Regions from separate parts of the Homo sapiens genome. Here region 2 is linked to region 1. Evidence: fine-mapped expression QTL. A gene starts in region 1. The other region holds a variant in brackets. All regions are shown on one strand. Distances are between the middles of the regions.

Region 1 (9,580 bases):
CGTGATTACAGCTTACTGCAACCTCAACCTCAACCTCCTCGGCTCAGGCAAACCTCCTGCCTCAGCCTCCTAAATAGCTGGGGCCACAGGCATGTGCAGCCACAACCAGTTAACTTTTTAGTTATTTGTGGAGATGGGCCTCACTATGTTGCCCAGGTAGTACTACATTTCTAACTGATGCAGTAACAGTCTTTTTGTCTGCCCCCTGAGGGTTACTGATCTCTACAGCACAGGTAGTTTTTTAAATTAACATCTTTAAATTGCACTGAAAATGTCAACAAGAAACTGGGAGTTTGCCACCTAAGCCCTTTTGCAGTTTTGCAGCGTGTATGGGTTCTCTTGTCTATGCTGCAAAAGAATTAACATGCTGGAAATGTATTAGGATAAGAGGGTGAAAGAAAGGATTGGGTAGGAAAAGCACACTGGCTGTTGTGTTATTTGGTCTTCCATCTCCTGGAGACAGGACTGAGAAGGAAAGTTTTTGTAGTAAGGGAAAAGAGTGGGAATACTGTCCAGCTTTCCCACTTCCCCTTCCTCCAGTAACATCCTGTTACAAATCTGCTAACCTACAAAGAGGGTAGTGAGATATACTGACCCAAGAGAAAGCAAGACGCCCTCCCCCAGAGGTCCCTCTGTCACACTGGCAGTTCTAAGAAAGGTTTGGTCAGTCCAATGGTGGTATGCAAGCCAAAGCTGCCATTGTTGGAGTCCCGTGCTTCGTGGACATGGGCTTGTGTTAGTACTCTGCCAGGCTCATTTATTAGGATTGTGGTGGTTTTTTTTTTTTTTTTTTTGAGACAGTCTTGCTCTGTCGTCTAGGCTGGAGTGCAGTGGCGCAATCTTGGCTCACTGCACGCTCCGCCTCCCGGGTTCACGCCATTCTGTCTCAGCCTCCCAGGATTGTGGTTTTAAGGCAAACAAAGTGCACTGATGCTGTATTCACCAGAAGTGAGCAGTACTTCAAGGCCGGAAGTTGGAAGTTGTATATTAGAATGCTAATGAAATTGAACTTGGGAATTACGCAGTCAGCGCGAGGAAGTGCTGATCTTGGACACCCACTCCAAAAGGCCAACATAAGCTAAAAGTACCTACTGTGTTCATTGTGCCAGTTAAGTAGATGTGATCAGTAGTACTCGGGGTATTCAGGGATAGAGGCATGTAGGTATACTGGCTGCGTAACATAAAACCGTAAAGTGTAGAGGAAGAAATAGGGCGGCATCTCAAAGAGGAAATGGCAGGAAGATTTTAGGAACACAAGTGGCTGACTGGAAAGTCCAGAAAACTAAAATGCCACATGAGAGGTCTCCTGTACTGAACTGAGGATCTTAGGCTTAAGATTGTTCTTGAGTGTAATACAACGTCACTGAAGAACTTGATTCACAGGAAATTTTAAAATTTACTCATTTGAGACAGGGTTTCTGTTGCCCAGCCTGTAGTGCAGTGGTGTGATCATAGCTCACTGCACCTTTGAACTTCTAGGCTCAGACAATCCCCTGCCCACAACCTCCAGAGAATCTGGTGCATGCCAGGCACGTCCAGCCAATTAAAATGTTTTTTCGGGGTCCCAGGCTGGTCTCGATTCCTGGCCTCAAGTGATCCCCCTGCCTTGTTCTCCTAAAGTACTGGGATTACAGATATGAGCCACCAGCTCAGATTATTTCAAATCCCAATGGCATCCCAGCATAAACAAGGGAAAATTAGGTGGGCTTTTCAGTCTCAAATGGAGAATTCTAACATGTTTCTGGCTTTGGGGGCTGGATGGATAATGGTGCATTTACAAAGTTGGGGAATCAGGAGATGGTTTTGTGGGAGGAGCTAAAGTTGAATTTGAGGAAGCTGTAAGATGTTAACCTGTGGACATATCCATGAAGACAGATGGGTATTTCAGGTCTGGGTTAGGCATATGGAGAAGTGGATGGTATTCTGAGTGGAACAGACACACGGTAAGTGGTAGGCATCTGAGCAAAGCGGGGGAAAACAAACGGTTGAGACTTTAACTCGAGTAACTTACATGTGCAATGGCAAATGAGACTCAAAAGCAAATACATGCTCTTCCTTACTGAGATGATGCAGCATTTGTAAATAATAAATGTATGTTTTTATGTTTTTCTCCTCCCATATGGAAATTAAGTCAAAAGTACTCAAGTCACCGTTGCCAAAGGAGGAGTCCTGTGGTTTACAGGAAAGGGCTTGCGTGGCTGGTAACTTGTCCACTACACCATTGAAACAGCTTTGCCTCCTGGCTGGGCGCGGTGGCTCACGCCTGTAATCCCAACACTTTGGGAGGCGGAGGCGGGCGGATCACCTGAGGTCATGAGGTTGAGACCAGCCTGGCCAACGTGGTGAAACTACGTCTCTACTAAAAACATAAAAATTGGCCGGGCGTGGTGGCGGGTGCCTGTAATCCCGGCTACTCGGGAGGCTGAGGCAGGGGAATAGCTTGATCCCGGGAGGCAGAGGTTGCATTGAGCCGAGATTGTGTCACTGCACTCCAGCCTGGGCGACGAGTGAAACTCCGTCTCAAAAAAAAAAGAAACAGCCTTTCCTCAGCATAACACTATTGTTACAGCCAGGAGCTTAGGATGACTGGTTCCATTCTTTATTCACAATAGCAATTTATTTGTGGTATTGTAGTGGAAAGGGCACGTTTCCTAAGTTACAAATGTGGTTTGGAATCCCACCTTCCACTAGTTGTGGGATGATACACACATTTAGTGAGTATTTACTTGTAAAATGGTAATACTTAAAACACCACCCCATCCTCGTAGCTGAATCTCCACCCATAGTTTGTAACTTGAGGTTTTCCTTCTTTCCTACTCCTTCATTTCCCAGTATAGTAGCTTACCTATTCAATTCCCGTTGAATGACTTCCAGCTCAGTGAGTTCGTAATTTTACTTCTTAGTGTCATGAGCCACTGGGATTTGTCCCAATTTCCCATTTTGTATAGTTCCTCACGGCTCAGTTTCGAAGGCAAGGTTTCCTTAATGGCCAGGATCCCCCTTATCTCAGGTGCAGTGGCAATTCTTGGCTGGAAACTAAAAGATGGAGTTGAGTAAAACAGTAAACGGTGTATCATAGATTTTTATAGGAAATGGCGTTAGTTAAGTAATGGGCCTAAAGTTGGTGACTCAGGATAAGTAAATGAAAGTATTCCACTCACCTTTTCATACAGAGGACTACACTGAAAGATTTTGCAGAGGGTTGTATGTACGTCTAAACACCTGGCACCTAGTAGGTGCATGTCACTTTGGTAAATGAAAGAACTGAAAAACTGCCTCAAGACACCCACATACGGCCAACGCCCGCTAGCCTTTCTTCCTCCCACAGCCCCACTCACGTGGGCCTCCAAACAGCATTTATTGGCCGGCTTCGCGCCACGAGACGCGATGGACGTGATCGCCGCCCTCATCTTCTGCGGCGAACTTCTAGCGGGTGACGCTGTCCAATCGGAAAGCGCCTTTCCGCCGGCTGGGCCCTCCGTCTACCCCCAGCGGCGAGGGGCGGGGCCGGCGCGGGCGCAGAGGCGTCACGCACTCCATGGTAACGACGCTCGGCCCGAAGATGGCGGCCGAATGGGGCGGAGGAGTGGGTTACTCGGGCTCAGGCCCGGGCCGGAGCCGGTGGCGCTGGAGCGGGTCTGTGTGGGTCCGAAGCGTTTTACTCCTGTTGGGCGGGCTCCGGGCCAGCGCCACATCTACTCCCGTCTCCTTGGGCAGTTCCCCTCCCTGCCGGCACCACGTCCCCTCTGACACTGAGGTAGGGCGACATGGGCGGGAGCGGGCCCTCTCAGGGTAAAGTCACCCAGAAGGAGCAGGCGTAGGAGATAGTGACTGGGAGAAGGTGTCCTGGATGAGAAAGCGAAATTGGGGCAGAGCCTGACTCTTACAGGCCTGGGACCCGCTCTCAGCTCCCTACACCCTGCAAGTTGGCTGTTAGGCGCTCAGAACAGTATCACTTCTGTGCGGAGGGTTGTGCTTAGCAGTAGCCCTCGAGGAGTGGTTTTCAAACTTGAGCGTGCATCACAGTCACCCGACGCACATGGTACAACACGGATTGCCGCCCTCAGTCCCCCACTTAGTGACTCAGTAGGTCTGGGATGAGTCCCCAGAGTTGACAGTTTACGTTCCCAGCTGGTTGGTGAGATATGCTTGTCCGGGGACCACTTTAGGAACCGCTGACCTGAAGTTTCGGGAAGACATTGAACGGAGAGCCAGATAGAGGCGTTGGTGGGACGTTGGGGGCTCACTGGAGACAAAATTCAGGTTTCTTTTCACGTTATGTCGTCACTTTGTTTGCTTTACCCGGTTCCTCTGCTCTGGAAGTGCCTGCCCGCCTCCCATCCCATTTTTCTCTCTGCTTAAATTCTTTGTCTCATTTCAAATTCCCTAACCTCAAGGCAGCCTGCTGAAACCACCACAGCGCAATATTCTTTTCATTAAAAAGTACATCGTGTCTGTACTCCCTCCTGGCATTTAACCAAGTACTGCTATGGGATAATGGCTTATTTTTTAGGCGTATCTTGCCTTTGCAGTTAGATTATAAGGTTCCGTGGGATAAGGTTTGTGTTTCATACTTTGATTCCTTCACAGTATTTAGGTCAGAGGTGGGTCCACGATAATCCATATTCTTTGAGAAAGGGAGAGTACCTGGGGCAGGGCTGCATGCTGATACACCTACACATGTTCAATTCAGCCCAGAAATCTAAAGACACTCATTTTTATGGTAATTTCCCAAAATGTTACATGCATACTCTTCATAACCAAGTGAGCCAAAATATTAACTTCGGAGTTTATAGCTTTTTTGCAGCTTTTATCATGCTGCATTTTCGCTGAATTCTTTAAAAAAAATTTCCCACAAAACCCTGCACTTCTCTCTTTTAATTTGGATTAAAATAAGAGAAAGAGTCCTGGTCCCTAATACGTTTCGCTAGTTCCTCATAGAGTATATAAATACCCTGTCGTCCTCACTATTCTCCTTGTTTTAACCTGGACACGGAGTATAGCCAGGAGCTACAGTGTTCACTGTAGTTACGCTAATGACTATACCTCTGTTCAATGCTACAGGAAATTACATAACTTTTTTGGTTTTGGTGGTGTTGGGGAGCTACAAAACAGTTTTACTTTTTAACTGGTTCTCAACTAAAGCCTGTAAGTTTTGTTTTTACCTTTTATTACGCCGGTACAAACAACATCAGAATAATTTAATGAACCCGCATGGACCCATCACCTAGCTTTAACACCTAGCTTTAAGGTTCCGCCATTCTTGTTTCATATACTTTCAGCCATTCCGCAGCCCCCTACTTGAGTTACTGTTCTTTTGAAGTTTTTTGGTAAAATTTACATATATTGAAATGCCACAAATGTATCCATGCACATCCACATAAAGCATACAACCCATCACAACATAGAACGTTCCCACATCTCCAGACGTTCCCTCCTGTCCTGTGCCAGTCTCCTGCCCACCCCAGGCAACTAGTTTTCTAATTGTTTTTTTTTTAAATACTAGATTAGTTTGGCCAATTCTAGAGCTTCGTGTATTGAATGGAATTATATGGTATGTACTCCTCTGTATTTGGCATCTGCTCAGCATTATGTCTGTGAGATTCGTGTTGTATGTGATAGTAATTTATTCCTTTGAATTGCTGAGTATTCCATTGAATACTTATATCACAATTTGTTTTTCCGTTATCTTGTTCAAAGATGGGTATTTTGGTTTCTTCCAGATTTTAGCTATTATAAATAAAGCTGCTGTCAATATTCTTGTACAGTAATTTTTGTGGATATATGTTTTCATTGTTCTTGGATAAATACCTAGGGGTGAAATTACTGGGTCAAGGGTAGGTGAATGTTTATAAAAAATACTAACCCTTTCTCCAAAATACTCTACCATTTTACACCCCCATCAACAAAATATTAGTTATGGTTGCTGCATATCCTCACCAACAGATGTCCTTTCTAAGAAATCTTTAAATACCCCCTAGGTCATAAAAATATTCTCCTGTGTTCTAGAAGCCTTCACTTTTAGGATTATGATTCATCTGAAATTAATTTTTATATATGATGTGAGATAGGGGATCAATATCCTTTTTTTTTTTTTTTGCCCCATATGGGTATTCAGTTGCCTGGATTATGTACCTCTGTAATAAATATTGAAATCAGACAGTATTGTTATTGTAAGCATTCCTGCTTTGTTCTTCCTTTTCAAAATGATTTTGGCTATTTTAAGGCTTTTATATTTCCATATAAATTTATTTATTTTTTGGCAGGGGGAGGCTCAAAGACAGATCCATATAAATTTTAGAGTCAGCTTCTCAGTTTCTTCAAAAAAGCCTGATGGGTTTATGATTGGGATTGCATTTACTCTATAGATGATTTGGAGATAATTGACATCTAACAGTATCAAGTCTTTCAATCCATGAACATAATGTATGTTTCTCCATTTATTGAGGTGATGCATAATTTTTCTCAGCAAAAATGTATAGATCTTGCATTTTTTCTTCTGTTTTCTTTTCTCTCTCTTTTTTTTTTTTGTTTTGTTTTGAGACAGTCTTGCTCTGTCACTCAGGCTGGAGTGCAGTGGCAGAATCATAGCTCACAGCAGGCTTGAACTCCTGGGCTCAAATGATCCTTCTGCCTTAATCTCCCAAGTAGCTGGGACTCCCAAGTATGCGCCACTACACTTGGCTAATTTTTTATTTTTTGTTGAGACAGAGTCCAGGTGGGTTTTGAACTCCTGGCCTTAGGCGATCCTCCTGCCTCGACCTCCCAAAGTGCCAGGATTACAGGCATGAGCCGCCGTGCCCAGCCAGATCTTGCATGTTTTTTGTTAAATGTTTTCCTAAGTCTTTTATTTTTTGATGCCATTGTCAGTGGAATTATGGTTAAAGTTTTCCAGTTGTTTGCTGCTAGTATGTAAAAATACACTGCTAGTAGGTAGAAATAATTTTTGTATATTAACCTTGTCTTCTGAGACCTAGCTAAACTTATTTATTCTACTAGGGTTTCCTCCCTTACAATTTTTGATGTTAGCAATGTATTAACTATAAATAGGAACAATTTTTGTTGTTGTAGTTTTGTATCATTTATGTATTTTTTCCCCCTTATTGCTCTGGTGAGGACAGGCAGTTCCAGGCTGAGCAAAAGTGAGATAGCACGCCTCCTTGCCATTTGTTCCTGATCTTAGGACCAGTCTCTGACCATTAAGTATGATGTTAACTTTACATTTTTTTGTAGTTCCCTTTATCAGATTGAGAAAGCTCCCTTTGGTTTCTGGTTTCCCGAGGGTTTTTATCCTGAATGGGGACAAATTTTGTCAAATGCTTTTTGTTTTTTCTGGTAATTATTGAGATAATCATATAGTTTCTCACTTTATGAACTGTTATGTGGTAGATTACATTGCATTTTCCAATAGTAAATCAACGTTGCTTTTTTGGGATAAACCTTACTTGGTCATGTTGGCTTTGGTAATTTTCTTTAATGTTTGTTTCTATTTCATTGTTTTCTGTTCTTTGTTATTTCCTTTTTCTACTTATTGTGGATTTAGTTTGCTCATATTGTTAGGCGGAAACTTAGATGACTGTTTTTTAACCTTTTTTTCCTTCTAATGTAAACATTCAAAGATATAAATTTCTAAGTACAACTTTAGCTGCTCTTCACAAATTTTGACACTTTGCATTTTAATTATCATTTAGGTTAAAATTTTTTTTTTGTTTTTTGTTTTTTGTTTTTTTTTTTTGAGACAGAGTCTTGCTCTGTTGCCCAGGCTGGAGTGCAGTGGCGCAATCTCAGCAGAGCAACCTCGGCTTCCTGGGTTCAAGCTATTACCCTGCCTCAGCCTCCTGAGTAGTTGGGACTACAGGTGCACGCCACCACACCCAGCTAATTTTTGTATTTTTAGTGGAGATGGGGTTTCACCATGTTGGCCAGGATGGTTTTGATCTCTTGACCTTGTAATCTGCCTGCCCTGGCCTCCCAAAGTGCTGGGATTACAGGCGTGAGCCACCACGCCCGGCCTAAAAAAGTTTTTTAAGAGACAGGGTCTTGGTCGGGTGCAGTGGCTCATGCCTGTAATCCCAGCACTTTGGGAGGCCGAGGTGGGTGGATCACCTTAGGTCAGGAGTTTGAGACCACCCTGGCCAACATGGCGAGACCTGTCTCTACTAAAAATACAAAAATTAACCAGGTATGGTGGCGGGCACTTTTAATCCCAGCTACTCTGGAGGCTGAGGCAGGAGAATTGCTTGAATTCAGGAGGTGGAGTTTGTAGTGAGCTGAGATTGTGCCACTGCATTCCAGCCTGGGCGACAAGAGCGAAACTCTGTCTCAAAAAAAAAAAAAAAAAGAAAGAAAGAGACAAGGTGTCCCTCTGTCACCCAGGCTGGAGTGCAGTGATATGATCATAGCTCACTGCCACCTCGAACTCCTGTGTTCAAGCAGTCTCCCCGCCTCAACCTTATGAGGAGCTAGGACTTCAGCCACATGCCACCACACCTGGCACATTTTTTATTTTTATTTTTGTAGAGACAGAGTCTTGCTGTGTTGCCCAGATTGGTCTTGAACTCCCAGTTTCAAGCAATCCTCCTGCTTCAGCCTCCCAAAGTGCTGGGATTACAAGCGTGAGCCACTGCACCTGGCTGAGATTATTTTATTTATGGTTTAGAATATGATCTATCCTGTTTAATTTTTCACGTGTACTTGTGAAGAATATATATTCTATAGTTTTTTTTTATTTTATTGTTTTAGAGATGGGATCTCAGTATGTTGCCCGGGCTGGTCTTGAGCTCCTGGACTCAAGCAATCCTCCTGCCTTGGCCTCCCAAAGTGCTGGGATTATAGACATGAGTCACTGTACCTGGCCTATTCTGTAGTTATTGAATATAGATTTCTATACATGTTAATAAGCTGAGGTGATTGATACTTTACTTCAGATTTTCTCTATTAAAAACTATTGGCCAAGTACAGTCACTCATGCCTATAAGTCTAGCTCTTTTGGAGGCCGGGATGGCAAATCGCTTGAGCTCAGGAGTTCAAGACCAGCCTGGGCAACTTAGTGAAACCCCGTGTCTACAAAAAATACAAAAATTAGTTGGGTGTGGTGTTGTACACCTGTAGTCCCACCTACTTGGTGGGGCTGAGGTGGGGGAATCACTTGAGCCCAGGAGGTGAAGGCTGCAGTGAGCCAGGTTGGCACCACTGTGTTCTAGCCTAATAAAGACTGTATTAATACAGGAGAAAATAGGTGTATTTAGCTTGCTTGTGGTTCAAGCTTACATGTGTATCTTTTCAGTTGCCTACATTTACCTGTGTGTATGTGTGTGTGCTTGTGCATTTTAGGCATTACAACATATATCTTTTGTTTATTGCATGTTTTTATTTTTGAGACAGAGTCTCTCTCCGTTGCCCAGGCTGGAGTGCAGTGACACAATCTTGGCTCACTGCAACCTCTGCCTCCTGGGTTCAAGCAATTCTCCTGCCTCAGCCTCCAGAGTAGCTGGGATTACAGGCACCTGCCATCATGCCCGGCTAATTTTTGTATTTTTAGTAGAGACAAGTTTCGCCATGTTAGCCAGGCTAGTCTCAA
Region 2 (9,930 bases), 47 kb before region 1:
AACCAACAAGTACACTGGACTTTCTAGCTAGACAACAAGCCATGAAATGAAAACAGACATATAAATAATAAAAAGGATAATATAAAATTGTTATTTGCATGCAGTAAGATTTTCCACCTAGGAAATCCAAATGAATCCACTGAAAAACCATTAGAGGGTTTAACAAATCCACAGCAATACACAAAAGAAATACCTTTCCACATACCATACACTTAGAGACAGAACCAAGAAGGTTTCGCAATGTTATCACAGAAAAACCTGGAAACAACCTAAATCTACTGACAGAATGGTTCACTAAATTTCAGTATATTCTGAGTGTGAGATATATTCTATCAATCAGCTGTACTGCTACAGAAAACATTAAAAACAAAGTAAATGTAAGAAGAAAACAACAGGCTCTGGAACACTATATATAGCATGATCCAATTTACTTAAGAAACAAATACTAGGCCGGGTGCAGTGGCTCATGCCTGTAATCCCAGCACTTTGGGAGGCTGAGGCCAGCAGATCACTTGAGGGCAGGAGTTCAAGACCAGCCTGACCAACATGGTGAAACCCCATCTCTACCAAAAATACAAAAATTAGCCAGGTGTGGTGGCAGGTGCATGTAATCCCAGCTACTCGGGAGGCTGGCAGGAGAATCACTTGAACCTGGAGGCAGAGGTTGCAGTGAGCCGAGATCGCGCCATTGCACTCCAGCCTGGGCAACAGAGCAAGACTCCTCTCAAAAACAAAACAAAACAAAAAACCACCACTGAGAATAGGTATGTTTTTAGGTATAAGTATGTATATGAAAAGAAATACATGTGGAAGAAACTTCCCTTCAGAAAGGGGAGTAATTTAAGAGGGCTTTCACTTTCTTTAACCTATGTATTTCTGTCTGAAATTGTAGCTGGACGTGGTGGTGCACACCTGTAGTCCCAGCTACTCAGGAGGCTGAGGTGGGAGGATCACTTGGGCCCAGGAGTTTGAGGCTGCAGTGAGCTATGGTGGCACCACTGCACTGAAGCCTGGGAAACAGAGAGAGACCCTGTCCCTAAAAAATAAAAAATAAAAAAATATATACTTATGTATTGCTTGTGTTATTGGGCTGAAGATCTGGGAAACTCTGGCGTCATCCCTTCGTGATCCATTTATCTACCAACTCACTGATAAATATCCAACACCTGCCAGGTATCTCACACTTGAAACAGGTAACATGATACATAATTCTTAAAGTGCAGGGCTACAGAACCCTAATTCTAATAGCCTACCAGGTATTTTTTTCAGTAAAGACCTGCAAGAGAGCATCTACAAATTCTCCTCTTTAACCACACATTTGGAATCCTTGACTGAAAACTCATTAGCTTTTTCCAAAGGCAAGCTGTATTATAACTAAGCTGGAAAATTTTCTCTTTATTCATCCAATAGGGTTATTTTGAAAGACTCCAGCTGGGGCTGGGCACGGTGGCTCACGCCTGTAATCCCAGCACTTTGGGAGGCCGAGGCAGGTGGATTACCTGAGGTCAGGAGTTCTAGACCAGCCTGGTCAACACAGTGAAACCCCATCTCTACTAAAAATACAAAAATTAGCTGGACGTGCGCCTGTAATCCCAGCTACTCAGGAGGCTGAGGCAGGCGAATCGCTTGAGCCCAGGAGGCCGAGGTTGCAGTGAGCCAAGATCACGCCACTGCACTCCAGCCTGGGCAGTAAAGCAAGACTGCATCTCAAAAACAAAACAAAAAAAAAAAAAAAAAGAAAGAAAGACTCCAGGTAGACTTAGACATAATTCTAACCTTAGATATATTATAGACCCAGCTTGGTTATTAGTATTGAAAATGCTCTTAAAACCACCGTGTCATATATATTTCACACAAGAAGAAATAAATTGAGTAAACATGTGGAAAAATGTTATGTTCACCTGTTAATAAGCAAAAATAAAAAATAAAACAACTCATTAAATTAGCAGACTTTGAAAAATATTGAAAATGGCTACTAATATTGAAGAGACCTTGAAATTACTGCCTGCAACACTGCTAACGGCAGCACAGATTCGAGAGTATTAGCAATGTTTATTAAAAGTCACAAAATACTAGTCTCTGAAACAAAAATCTCATGACTGAGATTGGCTTTTAGTAAATAGTTGCCATGAAGAAAAACAGTTCTTTGGGCAAAGCTTTAATGAGTGCATTATTTATAATAACAAACTTTAGAAACAACCTAAATATAAAAAAAAAGTGTAACAAATAAACTGTGGCACAACCATTCAATGGAACGTTAAACACAATTTTCAATTATTTTATAAAGAAACTGTAATAACATAAAAAATGAAAAGCAATGAGTAATTTTAAAAATCTTCACTCAACTGGGAATGTTATTTTTATAGTGTAAAAGATTAGTAAATTTTTTTTTTTTTGAGACAGATTCTTGCTCTGTTGCCCAGGCTGGAGTGAGTGGCATGATCTCGGCTCACTGTAACCTCTGCCTCCTGGGTTCAAGCGATTCTATTGCCTCAGCCTTCTGAGTAGCTGGGATTACAGGCGCCCGCCACCATGCCTGGCTAATTTTTGTATTTTTAGTAGAGACGGGGTTTCTCCATGTTGGCCAGGCTGGTCTCGAACTCCTGACCTCAGGTGATCCGCTGGCCTCTGCCTCCCAAAGTGCTGGGATTACAGGCGTGAGCCACCATGTCCGGCCTTTATTTATTTTTCTTTTTTATTTATTGGCCACTATACTATTGGGAAAAATTTTTAAATATAGTCATAATTTAAAAATAATTAATTTAAAAATTATGTCTTTTTTTGGTTTTTGTTTTTGAGACGGGGTCTCGCTCTGTTGCCTAGGCTGGAGTACGGTGGCGTGATCTCAGCTCACTGCATCCTCTGCCTCCCAGGTTCAAGCAATTCTCCCACCTCAGCCTCCTGAATAGCTGGGATTACAGGCGCACCACCATGCCCGGCTAATTTTTGTATTTTTTAATAGAAACAGGGTTTCACCATATTGGTCAGGCTGGTCCCAAACTCCTGAACTCAGGTGATCCACCCTCCCCGGCCTCCCAAAGTGCTGGGATGACAGGCGTGAGCCACTGTGCCCAGCCCATAAATTTGTAGGTCATAATTTGACTTAATAAATTTTAAGTCATAAATTAAGTCATAATTTGAAAATTATGAGTATACAGCAATATAGAAATCGAAAAATTTCTTATGTAAGCTCAATGATAAAAGCAGAAAACAAAATTTTACCTGCACTCTCTCAAATTACAGCTATATAAGATATCTATTCAGATGCATAACCCTGAAAGAAAACATGAGCTAAAGTTCATTAGGCTGAAAGAATGATGGTTGGTTTTCCTTCAAAATATTCTTTTTGTTTCCTCAGTATAAGCAGAGTACAAAAAAAAAGTCAAAGCATAGAAAAGCTGTGGGGACCCACCTGCTGCTCCTTTCTAAGGAACATTTCAATCTCTGTATGAGTCCGGGCCTCTTCTTCGGTTTTCATCCTGAGTTTCTGTAAGAACAATCAGATACCAGTACGTCTTCCCCGCAGGGCTGGGAATCAGAAGTTCTCAAGATGAGAGCAGCAGCTCGGTCGGTAGCTGAGGCTCCCTTTACCAGCTGGGATCCCGGGCTTTCAGTTCCCTGCAACTCCTGTTCACCAACACTGCAGAGCCACGTGGCGCGGCACTGTGTGGACTGCGTGTGTCCCTAACGAGACGAGCACAATCCCGTGAGCTGAACAGAGGTGCCCACTGAAGGACAGAAACGGCGCTCCAAGGGCACAAGGCTGTGGGGCTTAAAAAGGGGGATTCCGGAGTGCCAGGAAGAGTGTTGACGTGGCCTTGAGCCACGTCAGTCTCAGAGCGAGGAGTCCTCCCACACACAGATTCCACGGCCCAAGGACGTTTGTTCCTGCTTCCCTCTTCCCATCTGCCTGCTGCTCTTTCTTGTTTTCTTTTCTTTTTTGTGAGAAGGGAGTCTCCCTAGTTGAAGTCTGAAGTTGCCCAGGCTGGCTTCAAACTCAAGGATCCTCCTGCCTCACTGCCTCACCTCCGATTAGCTGGGACTAGTGCCTGGCTTTGCGTG[T/TGTGC]GTGCGTGCGTGCGTGCGTGCGTGTGTGCGTGCGTGCGTGTGTGCCATTTAGCATTCCCCTCAAAGAAGATCTACCACTTCTTTCTTCCTCCTGGCATTTTTCACCGTGACTTCTCATCCTATAAACTCAGGTTTGAACGAAGTTCAGCGCTCTCGATGCTGTATTTCTTACTGGAGGAGTGAAAGGTACTGGTTAGATGAAAGAAACAGCAGCAAAATCCTGCCATAACTAAGCACCTCGTTTTGCCCTCTCCCTATAATTAGTCAGAAAAATGGTGATTGGTTTGCCAAAATAAGAAGTGACCAAGGAGAGAAAGTGCAGCCAATTTTCAAAGTCATTATGAGGCGGGAGATGGAGGCTACAGCCCACTGGAATCTCTGCTTGCGAACACGCATATCCTCATTTAGGCTTTTATTTTCAACCTCAAGTGGAGGGGCTGTTGCCGATAGAGATGGAGGGAAATCTTTGTCTCCCTCCTTTGTTAGCTGAGAGGGGATCAGGAGTGACAGCTCAATTGCCATCTCCTGGGTTCTTGGCTAATGTCCCAGGGATTACCTCAATCTCTTCCACCAAGAGTTCCTCTGTTCTGTTACACTTTTTCTGGGTCTGGGCAATCTGCAGCTCGGTATTGGTTTTCATGTAGCGATTCTCCAAGTTGGATTTTGCCTTCATCTCTTGCAGTTGGTCCTTGAGGTTAGCAATATACTCATTCTGACTCTGTAGTGGAAAGACCAGGTTTCTAAATTGAAAATACATTCTACCTCCATTCAGTTCAGTCAGCGGCTTACGGTTCCCTTTTATGCGTATAAATCAATAAGGAACTGGAACTATTTTTCCGCTGTCACACAATGGGAAATTTAGCCAACAATCATGAAGTGTATAGATGAAAGTGAGTAACACAGCATTTCTAAGAATCAGGGCGCATCAGGGCTGTGAGATTAGTTCCCAGGCACATTATTGCTGTACTCCGTATGTCCCACACAGCTTTCTCATTTTGGTAGGAAGAACACTGGTCAAAATGATCAAAAGAACTGACTTCCCACCCAGGCCTCCAGCTGTGTGAACTTGGCCAAGTCAAATCTCCAACTTTTTACTTTCTATAAAACAAACACACAAACATACAAACACCCAACCTGCCTGAAGTATCTCAGAGAGTGATTATTAGGTTTCCTTGAGAACACGTGTGAAAACGCTTTCTTTTTGCAGGTCACCAAGTGCTTGGCAATTGTGAGGACTCAATAGTCATTAAGAAAAATATTTATTCAGCACCAGGCACTGAGCTAGGAAAATTGTGGAGATCTAAACAGACATATTCCCTTCCCTCATAGAGCTTACAGTCTAATAGAAGAGAGGTGGTTAAAAAGAGACAAACACATGTGTAAACTTCCAAAAATTGTGCAAAATGATAGAAAAGGAAGGCTCGAGAGGCTGTGGGAGGAAATAACAAGGGAGGAGTACATTAGACTCTGGAAGGTCTGAGAAGGACTCTCTCGGGAAAGCGATGGCTCATTCGATACCTGAAGGACAGGTAAGCCCACCACATGAAAAATAGGCTTGGCCAGGCACGGGGGCTCACGCCTGTAATCCCAGCACTTTGGGAGGCTGAGGCATGGCGACCAGCTGAGGTCAGCAGTTTGAGACCAGCCTGGCCAACATGGTGAAACCCCGTCTCTACTAAAAATACGAAAAATAGCTGGGAGTGGTGGCGGGCGCCTGTAATCCCAGCTACTCGGGAGGCTGAGGCAGAAGAATCACTTGAACCCGGGAGGTGGAGGTTGAAGTGAGCTGAGATCATGCCACTGCAGTCCAGCCTGGGTGATAGAGCGAGATTCTGTCTCAAAAAAAAAAAAAAAAAAGAAAAGAAAAAGAAAAAAAGGAAAGAAAAAGAAAAGAAAAATAGGGTTAAGGGAACTCTAAAAAAAAAAAAAAGAATAAGTATATGCCCAAATCCTGAAGCAATCAAGACCTGGATACATTCCAGGAACTGAAAGAAAGCTCCGGAGGCTCTAGCCTAGTGAGGGTTGAGGGGAGGACAGGATGAGGTTGGAGGTCGGTAAGGGCACCACACAGGACCCCGGAGACCCAACTGAGAAATTCAGATTTTATTCCAACTGTCATGGGAATCCTTGGAAAGCTTTTAGTCAGGGAGGTAACATTTGTTTGAAAAGAACTGTTTGGGCGGAATCAGTGTGTGAGTAAGTCCACAGGGAGGGGACCTGACGGCACAGCAAACAAGCACACGACTAGCAACAAAAGTGCTTCAACCCGAGACCTGCTCCTCTAGATACCAACCGCCTTTCTTCTCTTTTTACATTTTTTTTGAGATGGAGGCTCGCTCTTGTTGCCCAGGCTGGAGTGTAGTGGCATGATCTTGGCTTACTGCAAGCTCCACCTCCCAGGTTCAAGTGATCCTCCTGCCTCAGCCTTCTGAGTAGCTGGGATTACAGGTGCTCACCACCACACCCAGCTAATTTTGTATTTTTAGTAGAGATGGGGTTTCTCTACATTGGTCAGGATGGTCTTGATCTCCCGACCTCAGGTGATCCACCTGCCTCGGTCTCCCAAAGTGCTGGGATTACAGGCGTGAGCCACCACGCCTGGCCTCCAATTGCCTTTCGTCTTAACCATGTAAGTAGGGTAGAATTAGTTCTTTTGTATTAAAAAAATTTTTTTGTTTAGAGACAGGATCTCCCTCTGTCACTCAGGCTGGAGTGTAGTGGCTCGATCACAGCTCACTATAACCTCCAATTCCTGGGCTCAAGCCATCTTCCCAAGTAGCTAGTACTACAGGTGCATGTCACCATGCCTGGCTAACTTTTTAATATTTTTAGAGATGGGGGTCTCACTCTGTTGCCCAGGCTGGTCTCAAACTCTTGGCTTCAAGGGATCCTCCTGCCTTGGTCTCTCAAAGTGCTGGGATCACAGACATGAGCCACTGCGCCCGGCTTTGTTGTTGTTGTTGTTGTTGTTGTTTTTGAGACGGTCTTGTTCTGTCACTCAGGCTGAAGTGCAGTGGCATGATCACGGCTCACTGTAACTTTGACCTCCCAGGCTCAAGAAATCCTCCTGCCTCAGCCTACAGAGTAGTTGGGACTACAGGTGCATGACATCACACTCAGCTAATTATTATTATTATTGTAGAAACAGAGTCTCACTGTGTTGCCCAGGCTGGCCTCGAAACCCTGGGCTCAAATGATCCTCCCACCTCAGCCTCCCAACATGCTAGGATTACAGGCAGGAGCCACTGCTGCAGCCAGCCTCTTTTCTTTCTTGAGATAGGGTCCACCGTGTCCCCCAGGCTGTAGTGCAGTGTCACCAGCATAGCTCACTGTAGTCTTGAACTCCTAGACTCAAGGAATCCCCTCTCTCCAGCCTCCCAAGTACCTAGGGAATTAATTCTAAGTAACCATTGGAAGAAAAAACAAAGTGGTAATTGGACAAATCCTCCGTTAAGGAAAGCAAGCATAGGCAGCGGTGTCCAATCTTTTGGCTTCCCTGGGCCGCACTGGAAGAAGAATTGTGTTGGGCCACACACAAAATACACCAATGATGAACTAAAAAAAAAAAAAAATCACACAAAAAAATCTCTCATAATGTTTTAAGAAAGTTTACGAATTTGTGTTGGGCCCCAGTCAAAGCCATCCTGGGCCGCATGTGGCCTGCGGGCTACAGGTTGGACAAGCTTGACTTAAAGTATCATTAGGCCCCAACCTGGTGGGGTGGCTCACGCCTGTAATTCCAATGCTTTGGGAAACCAAGGCAGGAGGCTCGCTTGAACCCAGGAGTTCAAGAGCAGCCTGGGCAACACAGTGAAAACCTGTCTCTACAAAAAAATTTAAAAATTAGCTGGGCCTGGTGGCATGCGCCTGTAGTCCCAGCTACTAGGGAGGCTGAAGTGGTAGACTCCCTTGAGCCCCGGAGGCCGAGGCTGCAGTGAGCTATGCTCATGCCATTGCACTTTAGCCTGGGCAACAGAGCAAGACCCTGTCTCAAAAAGGTCCCTAAGATGAATCAGAACGGAATTCTTCAAGTTATTTTGTCTACTAGCTTCTTGATATAACTCTGCAGAATCATTCTAATTGTATGACAGTTATTCCAACTAGATCGGAATCATTCCTAAGAGACGGAGCATCTCTGGCACAGAATATGCTATAGGCCCTTTGAAAATATGTCTTAATATTTCATATTCTCTTACAAGTTGTAGGATTGCAGGCAAATTACTGGACCTCACTAAGCCTATTTTCTCATCTGTAAAATCCTGCCCAGGCTGGAGTGCCTGGCACAACTTATATGCTCAATAAATGTTGATGAAATGAATTTTAAGAGATGTCTGCTTTTGGCTCACTGTTTTTCTTCCATTCTTTCTATACGCACTTCCCTTCTCCCCTGTCTTCCCCATTTCTCTTTTCTCTTTTTTTTTTTTGAGACAGAGTCTCGCTGTGTTGCCCAGGCTGGAGTGCAGTGGTGCGATCTTGGCTCACTGCAACCTCTGCCTCCCGGGTTCAAGCGATTCTCCTGCCTCAGCCTCCCAAGTAGCTGGGATTACAGGCATGTGCCACCATGCCTGGCTAATTTTTTAATTTCTTTTTAGTAGAGATGGGGTTTCACCATGTTGGCCAGGCTGGTCTCCAGCTCCTGACCTCAGGGGATCTGCCCGCCTCAGCCTCCCAAAGTGCTGGGATTACAGGCATGAGCCACCATGCCCAGCCCATTTCTCCTCCTTCTTCCTCTTCCCTCCCTTCTATTTCCAAATTGTATGGCAGTCAGTGAATCTTTTTTTTTTTTTTTTGAGACAAGATCTCTCTGTTGCCCAGGCTGGAGTGCAATGGTGCGATCTTGGCTCACTGCAATCTCCGCCTCCCACCTCAACCTCCCGAGTAGCTGGGCCTACATGTACGTGCTACCACGCCACCACACCCAGCTAATTTTTTGCTTTTTTTTTTTTTTTTTTTTTTTTTGGTAGAGATGGGGTTTTGCCATGTTGCCCAGGCTGGTCTCAAACTCCTGGTCTCAAACAATCTACCTGCCTCGGCCTCCCAATGTGCTGGGATTACAGGCATGAGCCACTGTGCCTGGTATAGGTTTGAATCTTTAGGAAGACTAGAGTTAAAGCAAAAATGTGATGGTTTTACTTCTTCATCAACTGGAATCCTTTTACCTATATAATCCCTTAGATTTCCTTCAAGGTCCACCTTATATATCACTCAAGTAAATAAAGCCTTTTGCAGAAAACCTCAGCCCACATTGATAACTGTAGTTTTGTTTCTCACAGAATCTAAATAGTGTTAGACAGGGATTTATTGAATAGTGTCCGTACATACAAAAATATACTTTTGAAAACTCAAGAGCATGTTCTGGTAATTTTTCTTTCTCAAATGGAATATTAAGACTTCAGAGTAACAGTCTGAAGATCAGAAATGCAGAGTTAAAAGTCTTTAGCTTCTGCCCATGGTAAACAGAAGGTACTGCATCATGGAAGTGTTTTTTATTGTTGTTGTTTTAGACCGAGTTTTGCTCTTGTCGTCCAGGCTGGAGTGCAGTGATGCAATCTTGGCTCATTGCAACTTCGGTCTCCCAGGTTCAAGCGATTCTCCTGCCTCGGCCTCCCAAGTAGCTGGGATTACAGGCACCTGCCACTACGCTGGGCTAATTTTGTATTTTTAGTAGAGACAGGGTTTCTCCATGTTAGTCAGGCTGGTCTCAAACTCCTGACCTCAGGTGATCCACCTGCCTCGGCCTCCCAAAGTGCTGGGATTATAGACATGAGCCACCATGCCCGGCCAATGTAAGTGTTTATAAGGACGTACAACATTGGCTGTGCCAAGCCAAAGGCATCTGGTTTTAATGCCGTTGCCATGGGCCTCTGA

Which allele goes with the higher level. Positions count from the first base shown, and alleles are read on the strand shown. Sizes are in standard deviations (SD) of each study's normalised expression.
For the expression in prefrontal cortex of the gene that starts at base 3,308 in region 1, T is the low allele of the variant in region 2 and TGTGC is the other (moderate effect, 0.43 SD a copy in CommonMind).

What was found. PIP is the estimated chance that this variant, and not a neighbour inherited with it, causes the effect.
Region 2: its variant is fine-mapped to the expression of DRC9 in prefrontal cortex (CommonMind, PIP 0.95).

The regions. Positions count from the first base shown.
Region 1 is chr3:197,956,684-197,966,263 of GRCh38, forward strand. It overlaps DRC9 (dynein regulatory complex subunit 9), which reads right to left and starts at 3,308. Exons shown (of 12, transcript NM_032263.5): 1 at 3,162-3,308; 2 at 2,846-3,036. LMLN (leishmanolysin like peptidase) reads left to right here and starts at 3,534. Exons shown (of 17, transcript NM_001136049.3): 1 at 3,534-3,757. The coding sequence starts at 3,563. RefSeq lists an enhancer at 2,311-2,811 and a silencer at 3,363-3,592.
Region 2 is chr3:197,909,263-197,919,192 of GRCh38, forward strand. It overlaps DRC9 (dynein regulatory complex subunit 9), which reads right to left. Exons shown (of 12, transcript NM_032263.5): 8 at 4,619-4,780; 9 at 3,413-3,487. LOC124906330 (a long non-coding RNA gene) reads left to right here. Exons shown (of 2, transcript XR_007096246.1): 2 at 1-1,069. Among named protein-coding and RNA genes, the nearest start is that of RPL35A, 36 kb to the right of the region's middle. RefSeq lists enhancers at 3,369-4,568, 3,952-4,583. The variant T/TGTGC (reference allele first, on the strand shown) is at 4,063.